4 separate regions of the Homo sapiens genome follow, and all the other regions are reported to be linked to region 4. Evidence: microRNA targets listed by miRTarBase, many of them from high-throughput screens and not tested one by one. Region 4 holds a microRNA gene; each other region holds the end of a gene's coding sequence.
The links. Region 4 holds the annotated microRNA hsa-miR-4722-3p (ACCUGCCAGCACCUCCCUGCAG, at 2,490-2,511, shown strand). A microRNA usually pairs through its seed, bases 2 to 8, with sites in the 3' UTR of a target mRNA and lowers its output. Matches are read on the target gene's strand: a 7mer-m8 pairs with bases 2 to 8, a 7mer-A1 pairs with bases 2 to 7 and ends in A, and an 8mer does both.

Region 1 (7,118 bases), not on the chromosome of region 4:
TTGAAATGGTTTAAATTCTAGCAGAAAAGGTTGTTGAAAGTCCAGATTTTTCCAAGGATGAGGACTACTTAGGAAAGGTTGGAATGTTAAATGGAGGCCGCCGAATTGACTACGTTCTCCAAGAAAAACCAATAGAGAGTTTTAATGAATACCTTTTCGCTCTTCAGAGTCACTTATGCTATTGGTAAGTGTTCTTAAATTTGGTAACATTTGAGTGGGCTTTTGGTGCTAGCACGTGCAGCAATTTTAGTTTTAGTGAGATTCTTTTACTGATACAATGTACTATGAATATTCATTTGAATTACTATATGTTCAGAATCGTTATTTTTCCCCCTTAGTTACCCACAAGATGGCAGTATGTCATCTGCTTTTGACCAAAGACCCTTGGTTCTTGCACACTGTTTTTGTGGGAATGCCTTTCACAGTGGGAGTGGTAGGGACTTTGAAATGCCATTCTTTCCTGTATCCCTGTCACCAAGGAGAATTGCAACACAGCTATTTTGGAGCTAATCAGTATTCATCTAGTTTTTAAGGACAGCTCTGAGATTACGCTGCTTTATTTATTACACTGAGATTACATTGCTATCATTTGCCCTTCTTAGATAGAGTTGAATAGAATAGAACCTGCATTTTCAACCATTGTGCATAGAAGTTAATTTCTTCTAATTGTCTCTTAAGTAAATATGCTTTTCCTTTTCATAGGGAATCTGAAGATACTGCTCTGTTACTACTTAAAGAAATTTATCGAACAATGAACATTAGTCCAGAACAGCCCCAGCATTGATCAAACTTCAGTTTTACTGTGTGAGTTTATCCTTATTGAATGTATAAATTCTGAATGTTTGCATTCTCAAATCTGTTGTATGGAGTTGATGTTGACTGATTTTGCTTTTTTCTGTTTCCTCTGAGTTTTTGTCGTCGTTTTTAAAAATTTGCAATAGAGACATTAAGGAAGATAATTGGTTTGTAATTTACATTTCTGATTTATTACAGTCTTCTTTCTAAATTTACATAGAATTTGAGTTATTTTTAGTTTCTTTTTAAAATAGATTCCCAAGAATATCAGTTAGGAATTCCTTTGGTTGCAGGTTCACAGAACCCAGTTTACAATACATTAAACAAATAGAGGTTTATTTTTCTTCCGTAACAAGAAGGGTTCTTCTGTTGAGTGACTCCACCAGATACCCAGAGTGCTTGCCTCTTCCCACCTGAATGTTGGCTCTTGCTGCCTCATAGTTATAAGGTGCCCCCATGGTTGCAGATACCATATCTACATTCACAACATGAATAAGAGGGGAGAGGGTAGTACTCCTCACATCTGTCGCTCTTAATTAGGGAAGCAGAAGCTTGTCCAAAAATTTACTCATACCTATTGACTAGGCCTGTGTCTAATGTCCAATATCTCCAGTCTGTATGAAAGATTGTAGAAGTAATGTTTTGAGCATTCCCAATCTTTATAGAGGGAAAGAATAGAGAAGGAGGTTAAGTCTGTGATGGGTCAGCTGACGTGCAGCTCAGCCACACTCTGTATTCCTAACTGTCCTCCTGAGACACCAGATACCTGGTTTTCCTCACTAGATTATGCATTACTTTTAAAAACAAGTAATGTGTTTTTTACAAAGTTAGAAATTTTAAAGGCTTTGAAAGAATCAGACACAAAATGCTGAGCTCTAAATTACTGAAATCAAAGGAAGTTCCTGCCATTTTTGGTTTTCTAATAGTAAGTGGTAAATGAACATTCCCTTCAGCCTCATCTTCTACCTCCTCGTTTTAGAGAGGTAAGTACTTTTAGTAGGGCTTCCTTAGAGAAAGTTTTTTGGCTCCATTTCCAAAATTAAACTTGTAACAAAGTAAAAGAAAACTAAAGTGTAGGCCAGGCATGGTGTCTCACACCTCTAATCTCATCACTTTGGGAGGCCAAGGCGGGCAGATCACCTGAGGTTAGGAGTTCGAGACCAGCCTGGCCAACATAGTGAAACCCCGTCTGTACTAAAAATACAAAAATTAGTCGGGTGTGGTGGCGGGTGCCTGTAGTTGGGAAATGCAAGGCCAGAAGTGAAAGATGGCTTTCCCATAACTCATCCCCAACCTCCCTGCCTAGAGGCAGCCAGTGTTCCACGTTTTGTGTATCCTTCCAGATATCTGTTAACACATCACACACACTTTTAAGTTTTTCTTTTTTAAAAGACAAAAGAGGCTGGGTGTAGTGGCTCACGCCTGTAATCCCAGCACTTTGGGAGGCCGAGGCAGGTGGATTACTTGAGGTTAGGAGTTCAAGACTAGCCTGGCTAACATGGTGAAACCCTGTCTCTACTAAAAATACAAAAATTAGCCGGGCATGGTAGTAGGTGCCTGTAATCCCAGCAACTCAGGAGGCTGAGGCAGGAGAATCTCTTGAACCCAGGAGTTGGAGGTTGCAGTGAGCTGAGATTGCGCCACTGCACTCCGGCCTGGATGACAGAGTGAGACTCTATCTAAAAAAAAAAAGACAAATGATAGCAAAATTGACACACCGTTATTACCTTTGTGTCTTTGAGATTGTCCCATATCTATCTATCCATCCATTCATCCATCTGTCCGCCCATCCGTCCATTCATCCATCCGTCCAGTATCTGTTGAGCACCTTACTTAAGTGCCAGGTATTATTTTAGGTATTGGGTTTCACAGCAGTGGACCAAAGCCTCTGCCCTCAAGGACCTTTTTTCCTCTAATGGAAGGCAGACAGCACGTGGACAGTTGAAATGAACCACATGGTAAAGACTGAGCAGCTGGACAAGGAGGAGAGGAATTCATTTGGGATGGGTTCAAGTTATTAATGTATATAAGATGGCAAGGGACCCCCTTCACGGGTAAAGTAAAGTGTCATTTGAGCAAGCGAGCCAGGTGGATATCTGGAGGAAGAAGACCACTTCAGGTGGAGAGAAGAATCTGGATCAGAACATGAGAGTGACCTCGTTCTTTTTAGGTATTCCATTGACTATTGCACCATAATCTGTTTAAGCAGTCCCTACTGATGGGCATTGAAGTTATTCTAATCTTTTATTAGTATGAACAGTACTACAGTGATACGTGATATTTTAATAGTTGCATTTCATTCCATTTTATAGTTCTTTTATTAAAATACTTTATTTTACCCCATTGTTGGGTGTTAGATGATTTTCCAAATTTTCTCCATTATAAATAACTCTGATATGTAGTTTTACACACTTTTTGCCAATCTCTGTTTGCTTTGGATACATTCTTAGAAGCAGTGTTCTTATTTCTGAGAATATTGCATATTTTGAAAAGATTTTTGGCTGGGTGCGGTGGCTCATGCCTGTAATCCCAGTTTGAGAGGCCGAGGCGGGCAGATCACTTGAGGTCAGGAGTTCGAGACCAGCCTGGCCAACATAGTGAAACCCCGTCTCTACTAAAAATACAGAAAAATTAGCAGGGTGTGATCTCACCTACTTGGGAGGCCGAGGCAGGAGGATCTCTTAAAACCTGGGAGGTGGAGGTTGCAGTGAGCTGAGATTCCACCACTGCACTCCAGCCTGGGCAACAGCATGCGATTCCGTCTCAAAAAAAAAAAAAAAAAAAAAGCTTTTTGATCCCTACATTTTGCTAAATTGCATTCCAGAAAAGTTGCTCAATTTTCATATTTACCATCAGTATGTAAAGGCCAGTATGCTTGCACTCTTGGAAACACTGGGTATTACTGATTAAAAAATTTTTTTTTGCTAATTTGATAGCCAGAAATAGTTATAATACCGTTTTTACTTACATTTCTATTATTAGTGAAGTTGAGCTCTTTGGGTGTATCTTAACTGGCTGATTATATTTCTTTTGTCAGTTGCCTGTTCATGACCTTTGTGTTTTCTTGGAGGTACGGGGTAGGGTCCTTTTCTTTCTTTATTTTATTTTATTTTATTTTATTTTTTTTAAGACGGAGTCTTGCTTTGTCGCCCAGGCTGTAGTGCAGTGGCGTGATCTCGGCTCACTGCAAGCTCCTCCTCCCGGGTTCATGCCATTCTCTTGCCTTAGCCTCCCGAGTAGCTGGGACTACAGGCGCCCGCTGCTGTGCCCAGCTAATTTTTTGTATTTTTAGTAGAGACGGGGTTTCACTGTGGTCTCGATCTCCTGACCTCGTGATCCGCCCGCCTTGGCCTCCCAAAGTGCTGGGATTACAGGCGTGAGCCACCGTGCCCGGCCAGGGTCCTTTTCTTTCTTATGGATTTATAAATATGATACTTAAGGATATTAACCTTTGTCATTATAAGTATTTTTTCCCAGTTTGAAATTAGCCTTTTATTTTTCCTTATACTTTGGATTTTTTTGGCGGCAGTTTGAGGGGAGCATGTTTTAAAAATACGTAGCCCTACGCTGGGCATGATGGCTCACGCCTGTAATCCCAGCACTTTGGCAGGCCGAGGTGGACGGATCACCTGAGGTCAGGAGGTTGAGACCAGCCTGGCCAACATGGAGAAACCCCATCTCTATTAAAAATACAGAAATTAGATGGGTGTGGTGGCTGGCACCTATAATCCCAGCTACTTGGGATGCTGAGGCAGGAGAATTGCTTGAACCCAGGAGGCGGAGGTTGCAGTGACCCTAGATTGTGCCACTGCACTCCCACCTGGATGACAGAGCGAGACTCCGTCTAAAAAAAAAAAACAAAAAAACAAAAAACATAGCCCAGTCTTTTATGATTAATTATTTTTTAGATATTTACATTTATTTTCTTTTTAGTTCTTTTTTTCCCCATTTGGCTTTGTAATTTAGAAGAGTAAGGTGTAGAGAACAATTTAACTTTTTTCTTACATAATCGTTTCTGTCTGTGCCATATATTGAATAATGTACCCTTTTGTCATTGGTTTGATATTTTTATCATATGCCAAATATTTTGCTGTTGTTTGACATTTTAATTAATATTTGTTTCCTAGGCTTTCTCATCTCTTCTGGTGATTTATTTGTCTATGATACTTCATTGATTTCAAGCCATTTATTTTCCACATTTTAACATATTTAAATTTGTAATGCATCTTAAAATCTGCTGTTGGGGCTGGTGCAGTGGCTCATACCTGTAATCCCAGCGCTGTGGGAGGATTACTTGAGCCCAGGAGTTTGAGACCAGCCTGGGCAACATAGTGAAACCTCGTCTCTTAAAAAAAAAAAAAAAAAAAATTTAAGTCAGCTGTTGCCTTAACGGAAGTTGAGTTCTTTCTGAGAAGCTGTGCATTCTCTTCTGCTGGTCACTGGGGGAGGGGCTTTACCAACTTGCCTCTGCTTAAGCTAATTTCTCTGCTTGGGATTTTTTAGGATGATGCTGGTAGTGTGATTTCAGCCCCCAAAATTTGCAGGGATGGGGTTGTCAGTTCAGATATTGGAGTTTTTGTTCCCTCTTTCCATTGTCAAGGAAGAGGTGCGCAGGCCTCTTTGCCATCCCTTCTGCATGTAGTTGCTTGCTTTTATCCCTCATTGAGACTATAGATGTTTAGTCCCCCACTTTTTGTGAGGGGTTCTCCTTTGAGACTCCCTTTCTGGGCATCTTTTTATGGTACATAACAGTGAAGTGTCACAATCAACAGTGTCTTAGATTTGGTGAAATATGGTGTTTTAATAATTGTAATTTTTTACATAATATCTGGCAGTAGAAGTTCTCAGTATACCATAGTCTTTGCAGTTATCCCGAATGAAGTTCGAAATAATTTAAGTTCCCCTGACGCTCTCTCCCCTAACAAAACAAAGCAAGACAAACAAAACCAAAAGAATAGTAATTCTAGGATTTTGCCATCACCTTATATGGAAAACTCAGAACCTTCTATTTCACATATGATTCGTTCACTATAATTGTTTTATTTACTTCTTCTTACACTTGGCTGTAAAATTTAGGCAAGAATTTAAGTTTCTAATACTATACTAATGTCATAAGATAATCCATTTAAAATGTTAACAATTATTCTATACATAGTTCATTCAAGCTTAGATCAGTTTTGCTGAATGGTTGTTTTATGTTCATGTCCTTTTAGACCTTTTTAGGATTGTTCTTTGAAAAGCCTCAAATTGGCCAGGTGTGGTGGCTTACACCTGTAATCTTAGCACTTTGGAGGCTGAGGCAGGCAGATCGCTTGAGCTCAGGAGTTCGAGACCAGCTTAGCAACATAGACAAGACATTACTTGTCTCTACTAAAAGTAAAAAAAAAAAAATCACTGGGGCATGATGGTGTGCACCTGTAGTCCCAGCAACTTGGGAGGCTGAGGTGGGAGGATTGCTGGAGTTCGGGAGATTGAGGCTGCAGTGAGCTGTGATCGTACCACTGCACTCCAGCCTGGATTATAGAGTGAGACCCTGTCTCAAAAATAAATAATTAAATAAAAAATAAAAAAGCCTCAAATTAACATGGCAGATAACTAACTTTATTTTTTATTAATATTTTAGCTGGTCACGGTGGCTCATGCCTGTAATCCCAGCACTTTGGGAGGCCAAGGCGGATCACAAGGTCAGGAGTTCGAGACCAGCCTGGCCAAATAGTGAAATCTTGTCTCTACTAAAAATACAAAAATTAGCCGGGCGTGGTAGCACACACCTGTAGTCCCAGCTACTTGGGAGGCTGAGGCAGGAGAATCTTTTGAACCTGGGAGACTGAGGGTGCAGTGAGCTGAGATCGTGCCATTGCACTCCTGCCTGGGCGACAGGGCGAGACTCTGTCTCAAAGAAAAAAAATAAAATAAAATATTTTAATTTTTTGAGAAGGGGTCTCACTCTGTCACCCAGCTTGTGTGAGTGCAGTGGCGCAATCTTGGCTCACTGCAACCTCTGACTCCCAGGCTCAAGCGATCCTCCTAACTTAGCATCTCGAGAGGCTGGGACCACAGGTGTGCACCACCACGTCTGGCTAATTTTTTTATTTTTTGGTAGAGACAGGGTTCCCCCAAGTTGCCCAGGCTGGTCTCGAACTTCTGAGCTGAGATGATCCACTTGCCTCGGCCTCCCACAGTGCTGGGATTACAGGCGTGAGCCACAACACTTGGCCATAACTAACTTTAAATTGTGTCTTTTACTCTCTGTACTGGCTTTGCTATGAAGAAATCATGCTGGTTAATCTTACTGAGTGTTTCCTGGGCATTCTTGTCCCTTT
Region 2 (7,113 bases), not on the chromosome of region 4:
TGAACTCCTGACCTCATGATCTACCTGCCTTCGTCTCCCAAAGTGCTGGGATTACAGGCATGAGCCACTGTGCCCAGCCCCGTGCCCAGCTATTTTAAAATTTTTTTGTAGAGATGGGGTCTTGCCATGCTGCCCAGGCCGATTTTGAACTCCTGGGCTCAAGAGATTTCTCATGTTGTTCTCCCAAAGTGTTAGGATTACATGCATGAGTCACTGTGCCTGGTCCAGCCTAGAATTCTATACCCAGCTAAAACGATCAAGTATCAGGGCAGAACAAAGTTACTTTCTGGTATACAGTCTTAATTATTTTAACCTTGGTTTGAACCACATGAAGAGAGAAACCCAAAATGAAGCACAGAGGTATTAGGAAACGGGGGACCTAACAGGACAGAGGGTGAACGTAAAGGGGGTCACAGCATCACAGCGCAGCCTCTGCCCAGAGAGCTGCCAGTCCTGGCTGGAACAGGAGGCTGCACAGCAAGCGGCACTCTCTATGGAAAACACCAGAACCAGTGGGGTCTCTGATCCACTTCACCCTTGTAGAAAACTATGGAGATGCTGTGGGAGAACATAGGGAAAGTTAGCAAATGCAAAGAGAAGGCAGGCTGGGTGCAGTGGCTCATGCCTGTAATCCAAGCACTTTGGGAGGCCAAGGCAGGCAGATCACCTGAGGTCAGGAGTTCAAGACCAGCCTGGCCAACATGGTGAAACCCCGTCTCTACTAAAAATATAAAAATTAGCTGGGCGTGGTGGCACGTGCCTATAGTCCCAGCTACTCGGGAGGCTGAGGCAGGAGAATCACTTGAACCTGGTGGGCAGAGGCTGCAGTGAGCCGAGAGATTGCGGCACTGCGCTCCAGCCTGGGCAACAGAGCGAGACTCTGTCTACAAAACAAAGGAAAAGAGAAGCCATTATCAGTGGTAGGAAAACAAAAAGCGATACAAAGAAATAGTCTGCTACTTGACCCAGCAAAGAACATTTAGATAGAGGTCCTAGCTGAAACATTGAATGTTCTTTTTTTTTTTTGAGATGGAGTCTTGCTCTGTCACCAGGCTGGAGTGCAGTGGCGCCAACTTGGCTCACTGCAACCTCCGCCTCCCAGGTTCAAGCGATTCTTCTGCCTCGGCCTCCCGAGTAACTGAGACTACAGGCGATTGCCACCACGCCCAGCTGATTTTTTGTATTTTTAGTAGAGACGGGGTTTCACCATATTAGCCAGGGTAGTCTCGATCTCCTGATCTCGTGATCCGCCCGCCTCGGCCTCCCAAAGTGCTGGGATTACAGGCGTGAGCCACTGCGCTCGGCCTACTGAATGTTCTTTTAACAAAAAATTGCGTCTTGGAAAGGGTAGTGGAAGGAGAGGCAGGTACTGGTCCAGAGTAGGAAGTGCGCAGATGTGAACTCCAGCAGCAGGCAAGAGCAGCGTGAGCTGAAAGGGCACAGGGAGAGTTTGGGGAGTGGGATGGGGGCAGGGAGTGTGCACCACAGCCTTTGGCAACTGGTGACTCTAAGCTGTGGGTGTGGAGACTTTTGACACATTTAATTTCAAAAATAGTGCAGGTGATTCTCCCCTCTGTCCCTGGTGAGTCACGTGAGCCTGGAGGTGTGCAGGTTCCCTGTGGGGCCAGCGTTGGGCCCTACGCAGCGCCTGCACGGCCCATCCACCTCCCAGAGCAGAGCTCCGGCGTTGAGGTGTGCGTGTGTGTCGTCGCACAAAGCCTCTGTGTGCAGGTGTCAGGAGGCACATGGCCTTCCATCACTGTGGCTGGAAGCGCCTGCCACATGTGGTATTGGCTCTCCCTGTACTTAGGGCCTGGCCCCACCTGCCGTGTGGCCCGTGTCCTGCATGGTTAGGAAAAAGGTCTCTTTCGACTTTCTGGCTCAGAAGCTGACTTTAGATGCTAGCTGAGGTTAATGTTTTACTGAATTGGAGAAAGAGAAAGGTCCAGTATCATGGGCCCACCAAGAATGTTTCCAGAAGCCACAGAGATTTGTAGCTGGGATATGGGGAGAAGCCTCTGACTCATGGGTTTGTATCGTCTGGTCCCATACTGGCTGTGTGATTGCGGGGTCGAGCTGGGTAGAACCTAGCACCTGCATCCACACGCTGAGTGCCACCATCCAGACACTTAGCTGCTTGTGGGGACTGAACGTTGAGATCTTCGTGAGTCTGTAGTCTCCACAGGCCAAGCTCCTGCTTGCAGGTGCATCCTTGGGGGAACTTCACGGCTTGCTCTTTCCTCCTCCGCCTCTAGGCATTGAAGTTGATATCGATGTGGAGCACGGAGGGAAAAGAAGCCGCCTGACCCCCGTCTCTCCAGAGAGTTCCAGCACAGAGGAGAAGAGCAGCTCACAGCCAAGCAGCTGCTGCTCTGACCCCAGCAAGCCGGGTGGGAATGTTGAGGGCGCCACGCAGTCTCTGGCGGAGCAGATGAGGAAGATCGCCTTGGAGTCCGAGGGGCGCCCTGAGGCAAGCCTGTGCCCCTCCCGCCACCTGGGACCACGGCCAGCCTAGTGATCTGTGGCCTGCACCTCCGCCTCATCCTCAGCACCTCTGCAGCCCCACTTACAAACCCGAGGGAGCTGCTGCTGCTGCAGTGATGTCTGTGCCATTAAAGTCACGCTGGGAACCTGCTAGAACTTTGTAGTTACTTGGTCTTTGTGAGTGGCCACTGTTCCCCCTAGACCCCTGCAGCCTTAACTGCACGTGTGCATGCGTGCTCCCCGACTGTCTGCCAGGAGCCAGGGCCATGGTCAGGCTTGGCCTGTTGCGCGTGTCTCCTGTGTGCTCATGGTGAGTTTTGTTCCAGGAACAGATGGAGTCGGATAACTGTTCAGGAGGAGATGATGACTGGACCCATCTGTCTTCAAAAGAAGTGGACCCGTCTACAGGTGAACTCCAGTCCCTACAGATGCCAGAATCCGAAGGGCCAAGCTCTCTGGACCCCTCCCAGGAGGGACCCACAGGGCTGAAGGAAGCTGCCTTGTACCCACATCTCCCGCCAGGCAAGTGAACCAAGAGGTTTTGTACATATTCCTACCTTTCCCTTTAGAGCATCCTGCCCTCCTCTGATTTCAGCGACACAAACAGAAGGATGAGATGTTCTCCACTGCAGGGCTGTCTGTAGGTGTGGGAGGTTAGGAGTTGGTTTTGTCCTATTATGTGTACCCTGAGCAATAGCGAGTAAGCTCTGCTAATGCAGTTCTGAAAATGTTTTTCTTTAGGCAAACTCCAGAGCCAGGAATATTAATTGTAGGAGTTTCTAAAACTTAACATGCAGACCAGGAATTAAGGCAGGTGTGACACAGAGAGGGGGCAGCACTGGGTGTGTCCCTACTACTCACACTCAAGTGCCGCCTCAGGGAGTGCTGGTCTGAGAGGGGGGGGGGTCATAGCCAAGATCCCTGTAGGAGCCAGGCAGAAGCCACCGTTGAAGTGGATGGTGTGGCAGGCAGCAGTGGGGGGGTGGGGGGTGGGGACAGCTGACAGAAACTCCTCATTGTCACATGGCAGCCGTGTGTAAACCAAGGTCCGTGTGCACAACCTGCTGTGGGCCGCCGCTGTGTGTCTTCTCTGCCTTAGGGCAGGGGATGGCGAGCTATGGCCTATGGGCCAAGAGTAGTTCTTATTTTTGTTTATTTATTTATTTATTTTTATTGATCATTCTTGGGTGTTTCTCGCAGAGGGGGATTTGGCAGGGTCATAGGACAATAGTGGAGGGAAGGTCAGCAGATAAACAAGTGAACAAAGGTCTCTGGTTTTCCTAGGCAGAGGACCCTGCGGCCTTCCGCAGCGTTTGTGTCCCTGGGTACTTGAGATTAGGGAGTGGTGATGACTCTTAAGGAGCATGCTGCCTTCAAGCATCTGTTTAACAAAGCACATCTTGCACCGCCCTTAATCCATTTAACCCTGAGTGGACACAGCACATGTTTCAGAGAGCACGGGGTTGGGGGTAAGGTCACAGATCAACAGGATAAGAATTTTTCTTAGTACAGAACAAAATGAAAAGTCTCCCATGTCTACTTCTTTCCACACAGACACGGCAACCATCCGATTTCTCAATCTTTTCCCCACCTTTCCCCGCTTTCTATTCCACAAAGCCGCCATTGTCATCATGGCCCGTTCTCAATGAGCTGTTGGGTACACCTCCCAGACGGGGTGGTGGCCGGGCAGAGGGGCTCCTCACTTCCCAGTAGGGGCGGCCGGGCAGAGGCGCCCCTCACATCCCGGACGGGGTGGCTGCCGGGCGGAGGGTCTCCTCACTTCTCAGACGGGGCGGCCGGGCAGAGACGCTCCTCACCTCCCGGATGGGGTCGCGGCCAGGCAGAGGCGCTCCTCACATCCCAGACAGGGCGGCGGGGCAGAGGCGCTCCCCACATCTCAGACGATGGGTGGCCGGGCAGAGACGCTCCTCACTTTCCAGACTGGGCAGCCAGGCAGAGGGGCTCCTCACATTCCAGACGATGGGCGGCCAGGCAGAGACGCTCCTCACTTCCCAGACGGGGTGGCGGCCGGGCAGAGGCTGCAATCTCGGCACTTTGGGAGGCTAAGGCAGGCAGCTGGGAGGTGGAGGTTGTAGCGAGCCGAGATCACGCCACTGCACTCCAGCCTGGGCACCATTGAGCACTGAGTGAACCAGACTCCGTCTGCAATCCCGGCACCTCGGGAGGCCGAGGCTGGCGGATCACTCGTGGTTAGGAGCTGGAGACCAGCCCGGCCAACACAGCGAAACCCCGTCTCCACCAAAAAAACACGAAAACCAGTCAGTCGTGGCGGCGCGCACCTGCAATCGCAGGCACTCGGCAGGCTGAGGCAAGAGAATCAGGCAGGGAGGTTGCAGTGAGCCGAGATGGCAGCAGTACAGTCCAGCTTTGGCTCGGCATCAGAGGGAGACCGTGGAGAAAGAGGGAGAGGGAAAGCTATATCATTCTTATGTCTTTGCATCATCATAGCTTAGCATCTACTCATAAGTGAGAACATATGATATTTGGTATCCATTCCTGAATTACTTTACTTAGGATAATGGCCTCCAGCTCCGTCCAAGTTGCTGCAAAAGGTATTATTTCGTTCCTTTTTGTGGCTGAGTAGTATTCCATGGTGTATATATACCACATTTTCTTTATCCACTCATTGCTTGATGGGCAGTTAGGTTGGTTCCACATCTTTGCAATTGTGAGTTGTGCTGCTCCAGATATCATCTTTAACTCCTTTGCCTTCTCCACATACATTTCCAAGTCCTGTTCATTCTACCTCCAAAATGTATCTTGTATCCATTCATCTCTCTCCATCTTCAATCTATTTCAATGCCCCATCATCTCTTGCATGGAGGAGTGTAATAATTGGCTAACTGGCCTGTTCTTACATTTTAAAATCAAAAGATGTGACAGGTGAAATGCCTATTTCAGTGTCCATTGATGGTTCTGCTTACACACCACCTGGCTGCCTGGTGTCGCAGTGGCAGAGTTGAGCAGTGTGAAAAAGACTGCTTGGCCCTTTACAGGGAAAGCAGGTCCACTGTGGCCTGTGAGGACGAGAGCTCTGGGCAGGCTCGGACACTGGCAGACCCTGGTCCTGGCTGGCCAAGGCAGCAGGGTATGTGTTTCGGGTCACTCACAGGGCTCAGCACCACTCCTCATGGCTTCCTTACTGTTTCGGCAGAGGCTGACCCGCGGCTGATTGAGTCCCTCTCCCAGATGCTGTCCATGGGCTTCTCTGATGAAGGCGGCTGGCTCACCAGGCTCCTGCAGACCAAGAACTATGACATCGGAGCGGCTCTGGACACCATCCAGTATTCAAAGCATCCCCCGCCGTTGTGACCACTTTTGCCCACCTCTTCTGCGTGCCCCTCTTCTGTCTCATAGTTGTGTTAAGCTTGCGTAGAATTGCAGGTCTCTGTACGGGCCAGTTTCTCTGCCTTCTTCCAGGATCAGGGGTTAGGGTGCAAGAAGCCATTTAGGGCAGCAAAACAAGTGACATGAAGGGAGGGTCCCTGTGTGTGTGTGTGCTGATGTTTCCTGGGTGCCCTGGCTCCTTGCAGCAGGGCTGGGCCTGCGAGACCCAAGGCTCACTGCAGCGCGCTCCTGACCCCTCCCTGCAGGGGCTACGTTAGCAGCCCAGCACATAGCTTGCCTAATGGCTTTCACTTTCTCTTTTGTTTTAAATGACTCATAGGTCCCTGACATTTAGTTGATTATTTTCTGCTACAGACCTGGTACACTCTGATTTTAGATAAAGTAAGCCTAGGTGTTGTCAGCAGGCAGGCTGGGGAGGCCAGTGTTGTGGGCTTCCTGCTGGGACTGAGAAGGCTCACGAAGGGCATCCGCAATGTTGGTTTCACTGAGAGCTGCCTCCTGGTCTCTTCACCACTGTAGTTCTCTCATTTCCAAACCATCAGCTGCTTTTAAAATAAGATCTCTTTGTAGCCATCCTGTTAAATTTGTAAACAATCTAATTAAATGGCATCAGCACTTTAACCAATGACGTTTGCATAGAGAGAAATGATTGACAGTAAGTTTATTGTTAATGGTTCTTACAGAGTATCTTTAAAAGTGCCTTAGGGGAACCCTGTCCCTCCTAACAAGTGTATCTCGATTAATAACCTGCCAGTCCCAGATCACACATCATCATCGAAGTCTTCCCCAGTTATAAAGAGGTCACATAGTCGTGTGGGTCGAGGATTCTGTGCCTCCAGGACCAGGGGCCCACCCTCTGCCCAGGGAGTCCTTGCGTCCCATGAGGTCTTCCCGCAAGGCCTCTCAGACCCAGATGTGACGGGGTGTGTGGCCCGAGGAAGCTGGACAGCGGCAGTGGGCCTGCTGAGGCCTTCTCTTGAGGCCTGTGCTCTGGGGGTCCCTTGCTTAGCCTGTGCTGGACCAGCTGGCCTGGGGTCCCTCTGAAGAGACCTTGGCTGCTCACTGTCCACATGTGAACTTTTTCTAGGTGGCAGGACAAATTGCGCCCATTTAGAGGATGTGGCTGTAACCTGCTGGATGGGACTCCATAGCTCCTTCCCAGGACCCCTCAGCTCCCCGGCACTGCAGTCTGCAGAGTTCTCCTGGAGGCAGGGGCTGCTGCCTTGTTTCACCTTCCATGTCAGGCCAGCCTGTCCCTGA
Region 3 (7,097 bases), not on the chromosome of region 4:
ATAAGAACTCACCAATCAACTATCTGCTGTCTTCAGGAGACTCAGCTAATACATAAGGACCCAAATAAACTTAAAGGGGTGGAAAAAGGCATTTCATGCAAATGGACACCCAAAGCAAGCAGGGGTAGCTATTCTTATACCAGACAAAACCAACTTTAAAGCAACAGTGATTAAAAGAGACAAAAAGGGACATTATGTAATGGTAAATGGCCTGGTCCAACAGAAAAACATCACAATCCTAAACATATATGCACCTAACACTGGAGCTCCCAAATTTATAAAACAGTTACTAATAGACCTAAGAAACAAGATAGACAGCAACACTGTAATAGTGGCAAACTTCAATACTCCACTGACAGCACTAGACAGGTCATCAAGACAGAAAGACAACAAAGAAACAATGGATTTAAACTATACCCTGGAACAAATGGACTTAACAGATATTAGAAAACATTTCATCCAACAACCGCAGAACACACATTCTACTCAACAGTGCATGGAACTTTCTCCAAGATAGATCATATGATAGGCCATAAAATAAGCCTCAATAAATTTAAGAAAATTGAAATTATATCAAGCACTCTCTCAGACCACAGTGGAATAAAACTGGAAATCAACTCCCAAAGGAACGTTCAAAACCATGCAAATTCATGGAAATTAAATAATCTGCTCCTGAATGAGCACTGGGGCAAAAACAAAATCAATATAGAAATAAAAAAATTCTTCAAACTGAGTGACAATAATGACACAACCTATCAAAACCTCTGGGATACAGCTAAGGTGATGAAGAGGAAACTTCACAGCCCTAAATGCCTACATCAAAAGGTCTGAAAGCAAAAACGGAAAATCTAAGGTCACAACTCAAGGAACTAGAGAAACAAGAACAAACCAAACCGAAACCCAACAGAAAAAAAGGAAATAACCAAGATCAGAGCAGAACTAAATAAAATTCAAACAAAAAAATACAAAAGTAAATGAAACAAAAAGTGCTTATTTGAAAAGATAAATAAAACTGATAGACCATTAGCAAGATTAACCAAGAAGAGAGAAAATCCAAATAACCTCACTGAGAAATGAAACAGGAGATATAATAACTGACACCACTGAAATACAAAGAATCATTCAAGACTACTATGAACACCTTTACACACATAAACTAGAAAACCTAGAAGAGATGAATAAATTCCTGGAAAGATACAACCCTCCTAGCTTAAATCAGGAGGCATTAGATACCCTGAACAGACCAAAAACAAGCAGTGAGATTAAAATGGTAATTTAAAAATTACCAACAAAAAAAGTCCAGGACCAGATGGATTCACAGCAGAATTCTACCAGATATTCAAAGAATTACTACCAATTCTTTTGACACTATTCCACAAGACAGAGAAAGGAGGAACCCTCCCTAATTCATTCTATGAGGTCAGCATCACCCTAATACCAAAACCAGGAAAAGACACGACCAAAGAAGAAAACTACAGACCAATATCCTTGATAAACATTGATGCTAATATCCTTAACAAAATACTAGCTAACAATATCCAAAAACATGTCGAAAAGAATATCCAACAACATGTCGAAAAGATAATCCACCATGATCAAGCTGATTTCATACCAGGTATGCAGGGATGGTTTAACACACACAAGTCAAGAAATGTGATACACCACATAAATAGAATTGAAAACAAAAATCACATGATCATCTGAATAGATGCAGAAAAAAAAATTGACAATATTTAGCATCCCTTTATGATTAAACCTCTCAGCAAAGTTGGCATACAAGGGACACAGCTTAATGTAATAAATAAAAGCTATCTATGACAAGCCCACAGCCAACATAATACTGAATAGAAAAAAGTTGAAAGCATTTCCTTTGAGAACGGGAACAAGACAAGGATGCCCACTCTCACTACTCCTCTTCAACATAGCCCTGGAAGTCCTAGCCAGAGCAATCAGACAAGAGAAAGAAATGAAGGGCATCCAAATCAGTAAACAGGAAGTCATACTGTCCGCTTGCTGATGATGTGATCATTTACCTTGAAAACCCTCAGGACTCCTCCAGAAAGCTCCTAGAACTGATAAAACAATTCAGCAAAGTTTCAGGATACGAGATTAATGTACACAACTCAGTAGCTCTTCTAATAACCAACAGCAACCAAATGGAGAATTAAATCAAGAACTCAACCTCTTTTACAATAGCGGGAAAAAAATTATATGAATATACCTAACGAAGGAGTCGAAAGACCTGTACAAGGAAAACTACAAAACACTGCTGAAACAAATCATAGACAACACAAAGACATGGAAACACATCCCATGCACAAGCATGGGTAGAATAATTTGTGAAAATGACCATACTGCCAAAAGCAATCTATAAATTCAACACAATCCCCATCAAAAAACCACCGTCATTCTTCACAGAGTTAGAAAAAACAATTCTAAAATTCATATAGAACCAAAAAAGAGCCTGCACAGCCAAAGCAAGACTAAGCAAAAAGAACAAATCTGGAGGCACCATACTACCTGATTTCAAACTATACTGTAAGGCCATGGTCACCAAAACAGCATGGTGCTGGTATAAAAATAGGCACATAGACCAATGGAACAGAGAACCCAGAAATAAACCCAAATAATTACAGCCAAGCAATCTTCAAAAAAGCAAACAAAAACATAAAGTGGGGAAGTATACCCTTTCAACAAATGGTTCTGGGATAATTGGCTAGCCACATGTAGAATGAAACTGGATCCTCATCTCTCACCTTATAAAAGAAACCAACTCAAGATGGATTAAGGACTTAAACCTAAGATCAGAAACTATAAAAATTCTGGAAGATAAAATTGGAAAAAAACCCTTCTAGGCATTGGCTAGGCAAAAATTTCATGACCAAAAACCCAAAAGCAAATGCAATAAAAACAAAGATAAATAGCTGGGACCTAGTTAAACTAAAGAGTTTTTGCATGGCAAAAGGAACAGTCAGCAGAGTAAACAGACAACTCACACAGTGGGAGAAAATCTTCACAATCTATACATCTGACAATGGATTAGTATCCAGAATCTACAACAAACTCAATCTATACCTCCGACAAAAGATTAATATCCAGAATCTACAACAAACTCAAGCAAATCAGTAAGGAAAAAAACAATCGCATCAAAAAGTGGGCTAAGGACATGAATAGAAAATTCTCAAAAGAAGATATACAAATGGCCAACAAACATATAAAAAATGGTTACCATCACTAATGATCAAAGAAATGCAAATCAAACCCACAATGCGATACCACCTTATTCCTGCAAGAATAGCCATAATCAAAAGATCAAACAACTAGATGTTGGCATGGATGTGGCAATCAGGGAACACATCTATACTGCTGGTGAGAATGTAAACTGATAGAGCCACCATGGAAAACATATAAATGCATATGGAAAACAGTGTGGAGAGTCTGTAAAGAACTAAAAGTAGAACTAGCATTTGATCCAGCAATCCCACTACTGAGTATCTACCCAGAGAAAAAGAAATGATTATTTGAAAAACGTACTTGCAGATGCATGTTTCTAGCAGCACAATTCACAATTGTAAAATCGTGGAACCAACTGAAATGCCCAGGAATTAACGCGTGGGTAAAGAATCTGTGAAATATATATATGTGTGTGTATATATATATAAATATATAAACACTTAAAATGTATATATACACACACATGCACACACACATACATATATATATGTTGGAATACTACTCAGTAACAAAAAGGAATGAATTAACAGCATTTGCAATGTCCTGGATGAGATTGGAGACTATTATTCTAAGAATGGTAAACCAAATATCGTATGTTCTCACTGATATGTGGGAGGTATGCTATGAGGATGCAAAGACATAAGAATAATACAATGGACTTTGGGTACTTGCGGGGAAGAGTGAAAGGGGAAGGGATAAAATACAGCATATATGGTGCAGTGTATACTGCTTGGGTGATGGATGCACCAGGATCTCACAAATCACCACTAAAGAACTTACTCAACTAACCAAATACCACCTGTACATAAGTAACTTATGGAACAATAAAATTTTAAAAAAGTATTTTTATAATTACAGACAGGCTCACATAATGAATTCTTCATAAACTATTACACAGGCCAGCCGGGCCTGGTACCTCATGCCTGTAATCCCAGCACTTTGGGAGGCCGAGGTGAGTGGATCACCTGAGGTCAAGAGTTGGAGACCAGTTTGACCAACATGGTGAAACCCTGTCTCTACTAAAAATACAAAAATTAGTCCAGGCGAGGCGGCTCACGCCTGTAATCCAGCACTTTGGGAGGCAGAGACGGGTGGATCACGAGGTCAGGAATTTGAGACCAGCCTGACCAAAACGGTGAAACCCCGTCTCTACTAAAAATACAAAAATGAGCCGGGCGTGGTGATGCATGCCTGTAATCTCAGCTACTCAGGAGGCTGAGGCAGGAGAACTGCTTGAACCTGAAAGGCGGAGGTTGCAGTGAGCCCAGATTGCACCATTGCACTCCAGCCCGGGAGAAAGATTAAGACTCTGTCTCAAAAACAAACAAACAACAACAACAACAAACAATTAAGCAAACAAAAAACCTATTAAACAACAACAACAAAAAATTATGGGTCTAGCATGAGTACCAGTCAAGTTAAAACAGAATTTGCATGGGGAGACTCTGAACCATAAGCCAAAAGATTGTACAGCAAGAAATTCAATACAAAGCAGAGTATAAATTTGCTTTCAGCATTTTTGAGAATTTTTGTTTTGTAGTAAATTAGACACCTCCTTAAAATGATTTTGTTCCAATATTGCTTTTTTCTGCTAAAAATAGTTTCGAACTTAAACACACTCCATAATTTATTTACACCTAAGATTCATCTTAGACTAACAGATGTGTATATTTAACTCTATGTAAATCAATACTAACAGTCCATATGTGCTTGCAGGCAGAGGCCACATGTTCGAAGAAAAATATATGAAAAAATTAAAAAAGATTTATTCGGGACTCAGAAATATATGGATTTTACTTATGTTTGTATATAAGTTTTATTATGACCATAAAAATAATCCTGTAGTCAACAACAATTTAATTGTACATTTAAAAATAACTAAAACTGTAGAATTGAATTATTTGTAATACAAAGAATAAATGCTAGAGGTAATGGAGACCGCATTTAGTCTAATGCGATTGTTATATATTGTGTGTCCGTATCAAAATATGCCACATATGGCATAATATGTACACATATTAGGTATCCACAAAAATTAAGTCAAATACATTTAAATGAGAAAATAAAAATAAAAATTTAGCCTATGGGAACAATATTCTTTAACTTAATGGCAATTAAAACTCACTGGCAAAAAAAATCACTAGAGATGTCAGTCCATTATCTTACCAAATAGTGTATTTTTACCATCTTTTACCTACACCCTTGAGTAAGGTGGAATAGGTTAAAGTTACTGGCATAATAACACTTCATTGAATTCATGATAGTATTTAACATGTTAAAACTGTTTGGTTGAAAAGTTCACATGCAATTTATAATTTAAAAATATGCTACATATATTTCATAAAAATACAATAAATCATACTAAACTTTAACTAAAATTAAGAATGTTTTTCTTTCATAATAATGCAGAATATTAATCTGAACATCTACCTCATGCATCACTCGATATTATAAGTTAACCATAAAGATCCTCTCTACTTAAATTTTCATCATGCATCTTACATTTTTAATGTCCTTACCTTTCCATAGAAAAGGTCATAAATAATGCCTCTTCATATTTGTAATGCTTTTTCAAAATACTCTTCTGTACTTTAAAGACATATTTTCTGATCAGTCGTTTGACAGTAATTACACTTCTTATTTAGTATGAACGCTCTGAATTTGAGTACGATGTGAGCAGGTATTAATGGCTTTTTGTCTATATTTGTTCACTTTTTCTCAAGCATAAATGCTTTCCTATGCATTAAGGTGTGAGCATTAGTTCAAAGCTTGGCCACATTGTTCACACTGGTAGTTTTCTCCAGTATGAATTATCTTACCTACGATCAAGTGTGACAATCATTTAGAGGCTTTGTCACATTCTTCACATTTCTAGGATTTCTCAGCAGCATGATTTTCTTGATGTTTAGAAAAGTTTGACTTGTCAAAAGCGTTGGCACATCTTTCAGGTTTGTAGAGTTTCTCTCCAGTATGAATAATATTATGTCTGTTAAGAATTCAGGACTTTTTATAGACTTTACCACATTATTCACACTTGTAAGATTTCTCTCCAATATGAGTTATCTTATCTGTAGTAAGGTGTGAAAACTGGTTAAAGGCTTTGCCAAATTTTTCCTGTTTGTAGGGTTGCTGTCCAGTATGAATTTTCTTATGTCTGGTTAGGGCTGAGGACCAGAAAAAGGATTTGCCACATTCTTCACATTTGTAGAGTTTTACTCCAGTATGAATTACCTTATGTTTAGTAAAGGTTGAAGACCGGTTAAAAGATTTGCCACATTCTTTATATTTGTAGGGTTTCTCTCTAGTATGAATTTTCTTTTTTTTTTTTTTGAGACGGAGTCTCGCTCTGTCGCCCAGGCTTGAGTGCAGTGGCGTGATCTCGGCTCACTGCAAGCTCCGCCTCCCGGGTTCACGCCATTCTCCTGCCTCAGCCTCTCGCATAGCTGGGACTACAGGCGCCCGCCACCACGCCCGGCTAATTTTTTGTATTTTTTAGTAGAGAAGGGGTTTCACTGTGTTAGCCAGGATGGTCTCCATCTCCTGACCTCGTGATCCGCCCGCCTCGGCCTCCCAAAGTAGTGGGATTACAGGTGTGATAGTATGAATTTTCTTATGGTTAGTAAGGATTGAAGACTGGTTAAAGGCTTTGCCACATTTTTCACATTTGTAGGGTTTCTCTCCAGTGTGAATTATCTTATGTTTAGTAAGAGCTGAGGACTCTTTAAAGGCTTTGCCACATTCTCCACATTTGTAGGGTTTCTCTCCGGTGTGCAACCTCTTATGTCTAGTTAGGGTTGAAGATTGGCTAAATGCTTTGCCACATTCTTCACATTTGTAGGGTTTCTCTCTAGTATGAATTCTCT
Region 4 (7,112 bases):
CTGCATTAAGCCTGATCACACCACTGCACTCCAGCTTGGGCAACAGAGTGAGACCCTGTCTCTAAAAAAGTAAAAAGAAGAAACCCAGTGCCCATTGGCTGTCACTCGGTTTCCCCTCCCCTGGCCCCTAGTAACCCCTTGTCTAGGTCCTGGTTCTATGAGATTTGCCTACAGTGGATATTTCATGAAAACAGGCTCAGACAGCGTTTGTCCTTTTGTAATCAGCTTTCCTTGCTCAGCATGGTGTCTCTGAGGTCCACCCACGTGGCAGTATGGCCTTCCTGTTTATGGGCAAATGATATTCTGTGGCATGGATGGACCACAACATGCTCATCTGTTGATGGGCTGTTGCCCGTGATGCTGCCAGGCACGCCGGTGTACACGTCTGTGTGCCCGTGCCCCTGGTCCTGTGGCTGCACGCCAGGGCCGGAAGTGCTGGTGGTGGTTTCCATCATGAGGAGCTGCTGGTTTTCCATAGCAGCTCCACCATCTAAGGTTCCCACCACCAACACGAGGTTGCGGTTTCTCCACATCCTCAACAACCTGTTACTATGTCTTTTTTGTTCTGGCCATGCTGCTGAACGGGTGGCTTGCTGTGGGCTCTTCTCAGTTCCCTGTTGACCGACGCTGAGCGTCTTTTCATGTGCTTGGCCATTTGTGTATCTTCTCTGGGGAAATGTCTATTCAAATCCTTTCTCCATAGTTTAGTTGGGCTTTTGAGATAGGATCTCAGGCTGAAGTGCAGTGGCATGACCTTCACTCACTGTAGCCTCTGCCTCCCAGGTTCAAGCGATTCTCCCACCTCAGCCTCCCGAGTAGCTGGGACTACAGGTGTGCACCACCAGGCCTGGCTAGTCTTTTGTATTTTTGGCCAGGTTCGTCTCAAACTCCTGACCTCAAAGTGCTGGGATGACAAGTGTGAGCCGCCACACCCAGCAGTTGGGTTGTTTTTTATTAGAGTTTTTTCTGTTTTTCTGCAGATACATTGGCTAGAAATGACTGAATTGGAAGAATTCTCTGTATTCTCTGGTTGCTAGAACCTTATCAATTAAAATTTGCAGAAAATTTCTCCAATTCTATGGACTGTCTCTTAAATTTTCTTGGTGTCTTTGGAAGCACAAAGTATTTATTTTGGTAATATCTGGTTTACTTTGTTTCCTTCGCCAAATCCAGGTTCATGAAGATTTGCCCGTTTTCTTCTAAAAGTTCTATAGTTTTAGCTCTGAAGTTTCGCTCTTTGATCCACTTTGAGGTAAATTTTGGCACATGGTATGAGGCAGGAGTTGCGTTTCATTCTCCTGCCTGGGGCGGTGCCTGCACCGTGTTGAAAAAGGTTGTCCGTTCCCACTGAACGGTCACAGCTCCCTTGTCTAAGATCAACGACCCCTGAACATGAGGGTTCCAACTGGACTCTTAGTTCTACTCCACTGGCCTGTGTCTGCCCACCATTACTACCGCTGTGCCATACTGAGGTCAGGCTGGGGCTTTTCTGGGCTGCTGGGTGAGCTGGAGAATGCGGTTGTGTGACCCGCAGGAAGGGCAGAGCTGAGCGTATGACCTGTGTCGTTCCCCTCCAGAAATACCCGCAGCCCAAAGGGCAGAAGAAGAAGAAGATCGTCAAGTACGGCATGGGTGGCCTCATCATCCTCTTCCTCATCGCCATCATCTGGTTCCCACTGCTCTTCATGTCGCTGGTGCGCTCCGTGGTTGGGGTTGTCAACCAGCCCATCGATGTCACCGTCACCCTGAAGCTGGGCGGCTATGAGGTGAGCATGTGTGGGTCCGCCTGTCCATTCCCATCCCCTGGGGGTTCTGGCCAAGGTGGTGCACCACCCCCAGCCGCTCCTCCACGCTCATCTTCGTGGCCCCGTGTCCCCGTGCCTGCCCCAGCCGCTGTTCACCATGAGCGCCCAGCAGCCGTCCATCATCCCCTTCACGGCCCAGGCCTATGAGGAGCTGTCCCGGCAGTTTGACCCCCAGCCGGTAAGTGGCCTCTGCCCTGTGAAAGCTGGTGTGGGGAGGCGGCTGCAGTCACTGAGGGTGTCACTTGTACCCAGCTGGCCATGCAGTTCATCAGCCAGTACAGCCCTGAGGACATCGTCACGGCGCAGATTGAGGGCAGCTCCGGGGCGCTGTGGCGCATCAGTCCCCCCAGCCGTGCCCAGATGAAGCGGGAGCTCTACAACGGCACGGCCGACATCACCCTGCGCTTCACCTGGAACTTCCAGAGGTTCGTCCTGGACTTGGGGCAGTGCCTGGGTGGGTGGACCCACTACAGTGGGTCACGCTGTGTTCCCACCCCCAGGGACCTGGCGAAGGGAGGCACTGTGGAGTATGCCAACGAGAAGCACATGCTGGCCCTGGCCCCCAACAGCACTGCACGGCGGCAGCTGGCCAGCCTGCTCGAGGGCACCTCGGACCAGTCTGTGTGAGTGAAGGGCCCGGGTGGTGGGCAGGAGGGCTGTGCCAGGTTGGCTGGGCCAGGCCTGACCTGCCAGCACCTCCCTGCAGGGTCATCCCTAATCTCTTCCCCAAGTACATCCGTGCCCCCAACGGGCCCGAAGCCAACCCTGTGAAGCAGCTGCAGCCCAGTGAGTATGGGCGTGGGGGTTGGGGGAGGCTAGAGAGGGGTGACCTGCGGCCTCAACGATCTTCTCCCTCCATCCCAGATGAGGAGGCCGACTACCTCGGCGTGCGTATCCAGCTGCGGAGGGAGCAGGGTGCGGGGGCCACCGGCTTCCTCGAATGGTGGGTCATCGAGCTGCAGGAGTGCCGGACCGACTGCAACCTGCTGCCCATGGTCATTTTCAGTGACAAGGTCAGCCCACCGAGCCTCGGCTTCCTGGCTGGCTACGGGTGAGTGAGTGGCTGGGGGGGCACCCCGCAGCTCGGGGGGCTCCGGGCGGCCCCAGGACTCACCAGCTTCCCCCGCAGCATCATGGGGCTGTACGTGTCCATCGTGCTGGTCATCGGCAAGTTCGTGCGCGGATTCTTCAGCGAGATCTCGCACTCCATTATGTTCGAGGAGCTGCCGTGCGTGGACCGCATCCTCAAGCTCTGCCAGGACATCTTCCTGGTGCGGGAGACTCGGGAGCTGGAGCTGGAGGAGGAGTTGTACGCCAAGCTCATCTTCCTCTACCGCTCACCGGAGACCATGATCAAGTGGACTCGTGAGAAGGAGTAGGAGCTGCTGCTGGCGCCCGAGAGGGAAGGAGCCGGCCTGCTGGGCAGCGTGGCCACAAGGGGCGGCACTCCTCAGGCCGGGGGAGCCACTGCCCCGTCCAAGGCCGCCAGCTGTGATGCATCCTCCCGGCCTGCCTGAGCCCTGATGCTGCTGTCAGAGAAGGACACTGCGTCCCCACGGCCTGCGTGGCGCTGCCGTCCCCCACGTGTACTGTAGAGTTTTTTTTTTAATTAAAAAATGTTTTATTTATACAAATGGACAATCAGAGGCCAGTCCCCCGTCCTTGCCTTCCGGCTCCAGTGTGGTGTACCAGGTGGCCACTGCCTGCTGTCCCGGCAAGCACGTCCTCACGCTCAGCTCTGGCCCGCCTCGTCGTCACTGTCCTCAATCAGACAGTCCCGGATCTCCTGCAAGCCCCAGGCCCTAGAGAGAAAGCTGCAGTGGGCACCAGCCCCGAGGCCCCTTACCCACGCGCCACGGCAGTGTGGGCCCCAGTACCTCTGTGTGCGGAGCTGGGCCTCAGCCAGGATGTACGGCGGCAGGGGGTCCAGTGAGGGCTGCAACAGAGGCCGGTGTCGAGGGGCCAAGAAACCTGCCAGCACCCCCTCAAGCCACCCACGAGGTGACGGCCTTCCCGCGTCCCCAAGCCCGGCCCAGGACAGGTGGGCACGTACTCACCAAGTCCTTCATGTTCACGCGGCAGCTGTAGCACAGCTGCTCCTCAATGCAGGCTTGGGGGTCCTCCCTGCGGGAGCAGAGCTGGCTGTGTGCCCACCTTGGCACCTCAATGCCGTGCAGTGTGGGGTAAGGACAGGTCCCCCTCCCGCCCCATGCAGCTGGCCATGGGTGGCAGGGACAGGGACTCACCTCCTGCAGGCCCCCTGGCCACAGCGCTGGGCCCAGCCCACCCCTGGAGAACAGCAGGGCCCCGGGGGTGTCCGGGTCTCAGTCAGGGGGATGGGTGACTGCATCTGGGAGAGACGCGAGGAGGTCTGAGCCCCAAAAGCCGTGGCACTGTCTGCAAGCAGAGAGGGGGTGACGGAGCCTGGGGCTGCTGAGCCCCCACACCCACTCCCTGGCTCCCTCCCCGCATCACCCCAAGAGCATGAAACACAGACCAGCGGCGTCGACGTCCAGGGCACACATGCAGAGGAGGCAGCGGGGGCCGGAGTCGCCAGCAGCAGGGCCATCCCGGGGGCCCTTCACCAGCTTCTCACTTGTCCTGTGGCCGGATTGTGGGAGGAGCAGGTGAATCACACGGGCTGGGGCTCCACCCTAAGCCCTGGCCTGAGCACGAGTGGTGAGCTCACCACCCGCACACACCCGCGCACAGCACACACCCGCGCACCCCCCGCACACACCCACACACACCCACACCTGTACACAGTGCTGACAGTGGAGGGGAACTGGGTCTGCAGCCTGAGGATGAAGGCCTCCATCAGCCGGTGGATGCTGGCCTTTTCAGGGGCCTAGGGACAATCAGATTGGAGGCTATGGGAAAGCCCAGAGGCCAGCCCCAGGCTGGGGCAGAGTCCCCAGGACAGGTGCCGTGGGTTCCACGCTGCTGGCCCACATGGGTCTGGCTTTGCTGCGACTGCTCAAGGCAGCCAGAGAACCCGCTTCAGCAGTGCACCCACTGTGGGGTCCTCCTGTCACCCCCACACCCTCACGGCACAGGGTGGGCTCAGAGGATGCAGCACTGCTGGGGGCCACAGCAGGAGTCACTGAAGGTGTGCTGGTGACCTGAGCCTGTGAGAGGCTGCCCAGCCCACATGGCCCACCCCGGTGTCAATGGTGAGAGAGGTTGCCCAGCCCACAAGGCCCACCTTGGTGTCGACGGCTGGTGTGAAGACAGAAGGAACGGAGAACAGGCGGTTGTAGAAAGCGACCTCCTTCAGGGTGTGGTCCCGCATGGGCCGCACCACCACCACGTCCCCGTGCCGCTCATCCGAGAAGCCCTGCGGGAGGCAGGGGCTGTGTGGTCCAGGTCAAGGCCCGAATGTGCTTGCCCCTCCTCCCCTGCCAGGTAGGGGAGGTCACAGACCCCACCACCATCCGAGGCCGCAGGACTGATACGCGAGAGGCTACTCTCCAGTAAAGGTGGCCGAAGGGGTGAAGGTGAGGATGGGCCTCCTGAACACCCAGGCCCCTGCCTACCGTATCCCAGGCCAGGAAGGCCCCTCGACCCAGCGCCAGGTTGGTCATGAGCTTGATAGCCAAGCGTGTGCAGCTGTCCCCAGTCATGACCTTGGAGTAGCCGTGGGCTCGGGCCATGTGGAGGATCAGGTGGGTCCTAAAGCACAGAGCGTCTCAGGGGCCTGGGGGGTGCAGGACCCGGGGAAGGGGGGCTCTCGGGTATGAGTGGGGGTCAGGGCCCGGGGAAGGGGGGCTCTCAGGGGTATGAGTGGGGGTCAGGGCCCGGGGAAGGGGGGCTCTCAGGTATGAGTGGGGGTCAGGGCCCGGGGAAGGGGGGCTCTCAGGGGCATGAGTGGGGGTCAGGGCCCGGGGAAGGGGGCTCTCGGGCATGAGTGGGGGTCAGGGCCCGGGGAAGGGGGGCTCTCAGGGGCATGAGTGGGGGTCAGGGCCCGGGGAAGGGGGGCTCTCAGGGGCATGAGTGGGGGTCAGGGCCCGGGGAAGGGGGCTCTCAGGGGCATGAGTGGGGGTCAGGGCCCGGGGAAGGGGGGCTCTCGGGGCCTCACCGCAGGGTCTGCAGAAGCTCCTCCTTGGCAGTCAGTGTCCTCACTGAGCAGAACAGTTGGGAAAGAGCCTCAGTCTGGGCAGGGGCAGGCGGTCTTGCCAGGTTCTGGGGGTCCAGCGGGGGCTGGGGTGGCTGTTCCTCCCCTTGAGTCGGGCCAGGACCACCCCCGGCCCCCAGCACATGCTGCTGCTGGAGGAAGCTGTCCACGGCCGCCTTGTAGGCCCCCTCGGATCCCACCAGCTCCTGGGCAGAGCACCAAAGCACCGACGGTGGCAGGCTGAACACCTTCCGGGATGAGGGAGACGCCAGTGAGGCCCGGGACACGGGCAGGTGCCCCCCACAGACAGCCCCACCTTCCGGGATGCGGGAGACGGCAGTGAGGCTGGGGCACGGGCAGGTGCCTCCCACCCCCCACCGACAGCCCCGCCTTCTGGGATGAGGGAGAGGCCAGTGAGGCTGGGACACGGGCAGGTGCCCCCCAGGGGTCACCTCCGGGACCCCTTTCCAGGGACAGCCCTCCCACCTCCTCTAAGGCCACCACATGCCATGGGAACCCAGTTGCTTGCAGAATGGGCTTCACTTCGGCCAGGGTCTTTGATCTCTCCTCTAGGCTCTGGCCACAGGCTGCTCCCTCTGAAAAACCCAGGCAGAAAGAGTCAGGGCTCAGAGAGGAGCCAGGCAGGGCAGGCTGCAGGGCCACCTCCACCTGGGAAAACCCTTCGAGGCCTCGCTCCGCAGGGCGGTGCTTCCTGGCGGAGCTGTGGGGTGTCGGCCATTTTCCTTTGGGCAGGGGTTTCTCTCTTGCGGCTGACCTCAGCGCTACAGTCAACACCCCAGGAGTTCGTTCTGCAGGAGCAAGGGTCGGGGAGTCGGCCCCTGGGCCCCCGCTCACCATCAGCACTTAACTTGCCCTTCTTTGTCCCCAGACCCCGTGATGGGGGCTGGGCAGCCGCCACTCCTGCTCCCACCCCCGACTTTCTAAGGATGTTCTTAGATTCCAGGAACAGTGATGCCACCTAACGATGGATACATCTGCTGCCTCCTTCAGGGAGATGTCCCCACCAGGCCCTCAGTGCAGGGGCAGCACCAGTAGCTCAACACATCCTACCAGAGGGAGGACCGGCACCAGAGGGAGGGTCCACACCAGAGGGAGGATCCGCAGGGCTTACCCCAAGTGGCCAGGGACTAGGAGGAGCAATGGCCCCACATACCGTCAACAAAGATGACTCC

Region 1: the mRNA of SEC23IP is a reported target of hsa-miR-4722-3p. The part of its 3' UTR that is shown has no 7-base or 8-base seed match.
Region 2: the mRNA of MRNIP is a reported target of hsa-miR-4722-3p. Seed matches in the 3' UTR shown: 7mer-m8 at 6,600-6,606.
Region 3: miRTarBase lists ZNF91 as a target of hsa-miR-4722-3p. Seed matches in the 3' UTR shown: 7mer-A1 at 6,655-6,661.

What each region holds. Positions count from the first base shown.
Region 1 is chr10:119,932,984-119,940,101 of GRCh38, forward strand. It overlaps SEC23IP (SEC23 interacting protein), which reads left to right. Exons shown (of 19, transcript NM_007190.4): 17 at 22-184; 18 at 703-804. The coding sequence ends at 784. Among named protein-coding and RNA genes, the nearest start is that of MIR4682, 22 kb to the right of the region's middle. RefSeq lists an enhancer at 1,084-1,253.
Region 2 is chr5:179,830,777-179,837,889 of GRCh38, forward strand. It overlaps MRNIP (MRN complex interacting protein), which reads right to left. Exons shown (of 7, transcript NM_016175.4): 7 at 6,500-7,109. The coding sequence ends at 6,615. SQSTM1 (sequestosome 1) reads left to right here. Exons shown (of 8, transcript NM_003900.5): 6 at 2,256-2,470; 7 at 2,811-3,006; 8 at 5,660-7,113. The coding sequence ends at 5,817. Among named protein-coding and RNA genes, the nearest start is that of SQSTM1, 13 kb to the left of the region's middle. RefSeq lists enhancers at 5,993-6,287, 6,069-6,218.
Region 3 is chr19:23,352,677-23,359,773 of GRCh38, forward strand. It overlaps ZNF91 (zinc finger protein 91), which reads right to left. Exons shown (of 4, transcript NM_003430.4): 4 at 5,020-7,097. The coding sequence ends at 6,727. Among named protein-coding and RNA genes, the nearest start is that of ZNF91, 39 kb to the right of the region's middle.
Region 4 is chr16:88,711,677-88,718,788 of GRCh38, reverse strand. MIR4722 (microRNA 4722) reads left to right here and starts at 2,452; the gene lies at 2,452-2,511. It overlaps CTU2 (cytosolic thiouridylase subunit 2), which reads right to left. Exons shown (of 15, transcript NM_001012759.3): 5 at 7,094-7,112; 6 at 6,406-6,515; 7 at 5,884-6,167; 8 at 5,342-5,477; 9 at 5,011-5,142; 10 at 4,562-4,653; 11 at 4,303-4,406; 12 at 4,052-4,202; 13 at 3,863-3,929; 14 at 3,683-3,741; 15 at 3,393-3,607. The coding sequence ends at 3,538. It overlaps PIEZO1 (piezo type mechanosensitive ion channel component 1 (Er blood group)), which reads left to right. Exons shown (of 51, transcript NM_001142864.4): 45 at 1,578-1,766; 46 at 1,891-1,983; 47 at 2,058-2,230; 48 at 2,306-2,428; 49 at 2,512-2,591; 50 at 2,670-2,856; 51 at 2,935-3,451. The coding sequence ends at 3,184.